2 separate regions of the Homo sapiens genome follow, and region 2 is linked to region 1. Evidence: fine-mapped expression QTL. A gene starts in region 1. The other region holds a variant in brackets. All regions are shown on one strand. Distances are between the middles of the regions. Region 1 holds the start of ZNF251 (zinc finger protein 251). Region 2 has its middle 5.7 kb from the start of COMMD5.

Region 1 (2,904 bases):
CCTCAGAGGCCCCCACTGCGAACCAGGCCAAGTGCAGAGAGCCTCACCCAGAGAGGCCACGTTCCCATAGTTCTCCAGCATCACATCCCGGTAGAGCGCCCGCTGCTGGGGGCCCAGCTGCCGCCCCTCCGCCTGAGAGAAGTACACGGCCACATCCTGGAAGGTCAGCGGCATCTCCTGCAACAAAACATCGCCGCTGCCCAGGCCATGCCCACGGGGCAGCAGCCTGCACTAAAAGGGCCCTGACCTGGTGGGGCCCCACTACCCAGGGCCCTGCTGTGGTCAGTATGAACTGTGTATCAGCAGGTCCCTGATGGGGCAGCTGAGAGCGCTGAGGACCAGCCAACTTCAGCTACACGGGGACCCAGCTGAGCTCAGAGCCCCTCTCCCTGCAGGAGGGCGAGTCTACCTCTCAGAACCCTTTCCTCACGGTTGCTATGAGCCCCTGGCTGGCCTTACCAGTTGCCGGGCTCACGGCTCCAGAGGAGAGTAGCTTCTGACTGGGATGGGGATGAAGATGAAGAGGTGGGCAGGAAGGAGGGTTAACTCACCTGGTGCCCTGGAAGCTGGAATGTGGCTGCCATTCTGTGTGCATGGGCTGCTGTGGTTTCCAAGAGAAGACAGGAGACTGCCCTGGCCTGAAGTCTCCCCGAACTTACCTTCAGTGGGGAGAACTCAGGCTCAGCCCCATTCAACCAGGGGTGTGGAAGGATGGCCAGGAGGCAGAAGCTGATTGCTGCTGTGGCCTCCTGGGTCGCGGGAGGCAGGTCACTATGCAGCACGGGCCGACGTGCCCTACTGCTCAGTGACTCCTGAAATCCCAGAACGGCCAGAGCCAGAGCCCGGGGGGATCCAGGGACGCCCGGCTAAGGGGTGAAAGCTGGCAGTTCCCGTGGTCCAGACCTGCTGAAGGCCCTGGAAATGGGGTGCAGGGCCGTTCTACCTGCCTGGCCAACCTGGGGCAAAGAGCCACGTGAGGGTGCAGCCTCACCAAGGCTGAGGACGTGAGAAGGAGGCCGCGGGGATGCTGCCGAAGGCCCCAGGCTCCGGGGAGAGGCCGGAAGCCAGCTGTGGTCCTCAGTCCAGCCTTCTAGGGCCGCGCCGCGGTCGCCTCCTCCCGGCCTCTGCAGCCCGTCGGTGGCTCCCGCGGCACCCAGAACAGGCTCCTCCTGGACTGGCCGCCGCCTCCCCGCGCCCTCCCCGCGCCCTCCCCGCCTGCCTGCCCGCTTGGCGCTCCTTCCTGGTCCGACACTGCCCCACCTGTTTGCTCGACCCGGGGAAGCCACCGAGGAAGCGCCGAGGAGCTGCGCAGTCGCACCGAGCCCGGAACGGACCCTCCCACAGAACCGGGTCCAGAGCCGGGGAGGGGGCGGGCTAGGATGAAGAGGGCGGGCCGGGCCGAGCTGCGCACACGCAGGCTTCCCCGCCCCCTGCGGGGCCTCAGTACGCCTCCGAGAACGCCGGGAACCGGAAGCCAGCCGCGGTTCCGCCCGGATTCTTCCGGGGCCGCTCTGGGATGACTGGAGGCCTGCGCCGTCTATGGTCGGGGAGGGGGAGAGCCCACGGCAGCTGAGCGGAGGGTCTGGCGCGGTGACGCTGCGCATCCGGGCCGCGCCGCGCTCGCCCCGACCCTAAACCCTCACCTGAACCCTAACCCCGCTGGGCTCCCGGCTCCCCCGTCGGTCACCATACATCGTGTGTCCCGATTCACCATAACCACCAGAAAGTCGCTTATGAAGATGTTACAATTATCGGGGCTCAGAACACAACGCCCCAAAATGAAGGCCTGGGAGGCAGTTTCCCTCTGACCTTCCCAGGCCTCCAGTCTCAGTTCTTTTCTCCCGCGAGGCTCCTCACAGAGTGAATCCCTTTTACCCAAGGCGAGTCCCAGAGGCCAGACCCCCAAAGCCAGCCACAAAACCTAAAAACACGACTCTGATGTTCCCCCCGCTTTTCTGTGTGAAAACTGGCGGTAAAGGCCGGGCGTGGTGGCGGGCGTCTGTAGTCCCAGCTACTCCGGAGGCTGAGGCGGGAGAATCGCTTGAACCCGGGAGGCGGAGGTTGCAGTGAGCCGAGATCGCGCCACTGCACTCCAGCCTGGGTGACAGAGCGAGACTCCATCTCAAAAATAAATAATAAATAAATAAATAATCCATTTATTTGCCTTTTCTCCAAAAATCTGCCTTTTATGAGTTGGCTTTCAGTGAACCTTCAGAGGGCAAAGAGGAACTTTCCCTTTGGCCCCTACACAATAAAGCATGGTTGAAAAAATAGCACTTGATAAAGGTGAGGAGACCAGCTTAGGAGCAGGGGGAGAAGGAAAGGAAAGCCAAGCCATCTTGTCACCCAGAATATAGTGTAGGCCCTGTACACTGTGTTAGAATCAAGGCAGAAATTTTATATCTGAACTTGAGACGATCAACGAGGATGGAGAATGTCTAGAAGTCTAAAGCACCATGCAAAGTCACACATGATTAAGAAGATGCCTTACATTATTAATATCAGTGCTGGGGAGATTGTGGAGAATTACGCACTGCTATGCTTGAGGAAGCGTGTTTAGTACAATGTTGAAAATGAATTAAGCTGTACATAAAGAGCCTTAAACACTTCAATTAATCTAGGAATCTATCCTATGGAAATAACAAAAATGACAAAGAGAAGGGTGCCCATTCCAGAGTTTGTTGTGTGTGTGGTTTTTTTTAAATAATGGGGAGAATTTGGAAAATAGCTAGTTATTCATAGAAGGGGAAATGGAAGATAATTATGCTTTTTGCAGCACAGAAATAGATAAATCTATTGTCTTCTGTACACTCAGTTGAACATTATGCAGCCATTATGTGTGGTATTTGAAAAAAAAGTATTGGCAGAGGGTAATGCTTATGAAATAGAATGTGAAAAATAGAA
Region 2 (2,904 bases), 100 kb after region 1:
CACCCCACCATCTGCAAGCAGAAGTGGCCTGAGGTGAGAATGCCCAGACTTCTGGGCAGTGGCCTTGTGTCCCCACCTTCTGGGGGGGCCAGAAGGAAAAGGAGCCTGCAGACCAGGTCTGGGCTGAGGCAGTGGTGAACACAAAGGAGGGGCACAGAGTGGGGAGGTGTTCGCACATATCAGTGCCCACCAAGGCATCCAGCACACATGAGGCACGGAACAACCAAGCAGACAAAATAACTCACCAGTGGACACCAGTCCTCACTGTCAGCCACTCTGGAACATGAAAGGGGTGACCCTGGTGACAAAAATAAAGACTCCATATGGAAGACCTCCTTCACCCTGGGTCTCACGCTGCCAGGCGCAGTGACTCGTGTCTGTAATCCCAGCACATTGGGAGGCCGAGGCAGGAGGAGCATGAACTCCCTTACCAGGGCCTGTCTGGCAGCTGCCACCTCTGGATGTCCAAATTGTCCATAACAGAGTTGATGCCATGCCCTTTCTATCCTGGAAAGGCTGGCAGTTTTTTCTCACACAGATGGATGCCTATTTCAGGTACCAGCTGGCCTTTCCTACAGAGCCTCAGCCCACACCATTGTCTGGGGCTTAGGTTGCTTCATTCAGAGGCATGAATCCTCACACAGCGGCATCCTAATGGGACCCACCTGTATTGTAGCAGCCAGCCTCATGCAACTCTGCACTGGCCTTCTAGAGGCTCAGCTGAAGCAGCAGCTTGGATGCTCTGCTCTGAAAGGATGGCACCATCCTTTGGGATGCCATGCATTAATTTGGATACTTTTTATGGTGCTGTGTTCCCAACAGAAAGAACACATGAGTCTGGGAAACTAAGATTTGAAGCAGGAGTGGCCCAATTCACCCAGACTCTCCCATAACCTACTGGGAGATTTTGTGTTTCCTCTCTACATGGTTCTAGACTTTGTAGGGTTGGAGGTCCAGTTCCCCAGGAGCACACAGCAAGGATCCCACTGAATAAGCTACAGTTGCTACAAGGACATTTGAGCTTCTCAAACCCAGGGACCCACCGAGGTCCACTGTGTTGACAGTTGAGGTAATTT[C/T]AGGATGAGTAATGAACAGAAAAGAAGAGAACATTTCAGCCCTGAGACCAGTTCCAGTGATGAAGACTGTAGCTAATCCAACTAACCACTTCCTTCTGAGTTTCTTTTCAGGAAGAAAGACCCATGGGAACCAGGGTTCTCTGAACTGGTAAGAATTAGAACTGGCTGGGTGTGGTGGCTCACACCTGAAATCCCAGCACTTTGGGAGGCTGAGGCAGGAGGATGGCTTGAGTCCAGGAGTTTGACACCAGCCTGGGCAACATGGCAAAACCCTGTGTCTACAAAAAATACAAAAAAATTAGCCGGGCATGGTGGCACGTGCCTCTAGTCCCAGCTACTTGGGAGGCTGAGGTGGGAGGATTGCTTGAGCCTAGGAGGTGGAGGTTGCAGTGACCTGAGATTGCACCACTGCACTCCAGCCTGGGTGATGTTGGGTTTTGAAGGGAAGATGAGGGTTAAAGAATGACACACACACAGAGACAGAGGGTGGCTTAACAGCAACACAGGTATATTGCAAAAACCTGTGGAGATGGGCGACCAGCTTAGTCCCAGAGCCCATTGCCGCTTACAGGCTGGGGCAATTTATAGGCCTGAGTGGGAGGGGTCGGGGCAGGGGGTCATGGCCTGCTTCCTGGGAAAATGTTGATAATGTGTTCTTAGGATGAGGTGGTTCTGGCCCTTGTTCCGGCAGAATGTGGTGTTCTTTGCACTTTCTCCCAGCAGAATATAAGAGGCAGGCTGTTTCTCACCACCCAAACCCCCGTGGAATGTTTCATTTTGACCAAGGTCTGCGAAATGGTGGGGGACTTACAAAATTGTGCAGGTTGGACTAACATTCTTGCTTTATACTTTTTTTATTTTTTCGAGACAGAGTCTCACTCTGTCGCCCAGGCTGGAATGCAGTGGTGCAATCTTGGCTCATTGCAGCCTCTGCCTCCCGGGTTCAAGCGATTCTCTTGCCTCAGCCTCCTGAGTAGCTGGGACTACAGGTGGCCGCCACCACACCCGGCTAATTTTTGTATTTTCAGTAGAGATGGGGTTTCACCATGTTGGCCAGGCTGGTCTCAAACTCCTGACCTCAAGTGATCTGCCTGCCTCAGCCTCCCAAACTGCTGGGATTACAGGCGTGAGCCACCGCGCCTGGCCACCTTCTACTTTAATATAAAGGGAAGAGCGTGGTTGTTGATTATCTGGCTGCTTCCTGCTGAATAGTGGTGCTGTAATCAGGGTTTGGGTTTTGAAGCAGTGGGTGTCTGACTTCTGAGTTGCTTTCCTGGCGGCGCTGATACTGGACTTGGCGGAGTGGGATGGTATCAGTGTCTTTCTGGGTGGCTGCCTGGACAAGGGAGTTCAGCCTTTGGGAGGTGAAGTGGGATATGAAGGTGAGTACACACAGGCCAACTGTTAGGAAGAAGAAAATTAGGGGCCCTAAGAAGAGGTTACCCAAGGCATCCACTTTAGGAGGGATGACCCCTGCCTCTAAGAGTTAGTGGCTTGATGTTGGATTTCTGCAGACCCGTCTCGGAGCCTGCGGGCTGTGTCTCAAACAGTGCCGTATTCGTGAACATTTAAACAGCCTCCTTCTTAGAGATACACACATGTGCGCCCCTTCTCAGTGGCTGACAGGTCTACGGCCCTTCGGTTCTGGAGAACAACTCCCACAGGGGAACCTACCTGCCTTTGGAGGCTTGTGATGGAAGTAGGCATGTCAAGAGGACTGCAGAGATTTATATATCTATATAAGGCAGCTGAGGCTGATACACCCGACCCGCCATTGTGGTGCCAAGTGCGACAGAGAGGCTTAATCCTGTTACCAGAAGAAGGAGAT

The links. PIP is the estimated chance that this variant, and not a neighbour inherited with it, causes the effect.
Region 2: its variant is the best candidate, but not a certain one, in a credible set for the expression of ZNF251 in whole blood (TOPMed, PIP 0.86).

The regions. Positions count from the first base shown.
Region 1 is chr8:144,754,145-144,757,048 of GRCh38, forward strand. It overlaps ZNF251 (zinc finger protein 251), which reads right to left and starts at 1,387. Exons shown (of 5, transcript NM_138367.2): 1 at 1,261-1,387; 2 at 552-659; 3 at 48-177. The coding sequence starts at 584. The region is part of intron 2 of LOC107986986 (a long non-coding RNA gene); the gene reads left to right.
Region 2 is chr8:144,857,327-144,860,230 of GRCh38, forward strand. No RefSeq gene overlaps it. Among named protein-coding and RNA genes, the nearest start is that of COMMD5, 5.7 kb to the left of the region's middle. The variant C/T (reference allele first, on the strand shown) is at 1,077.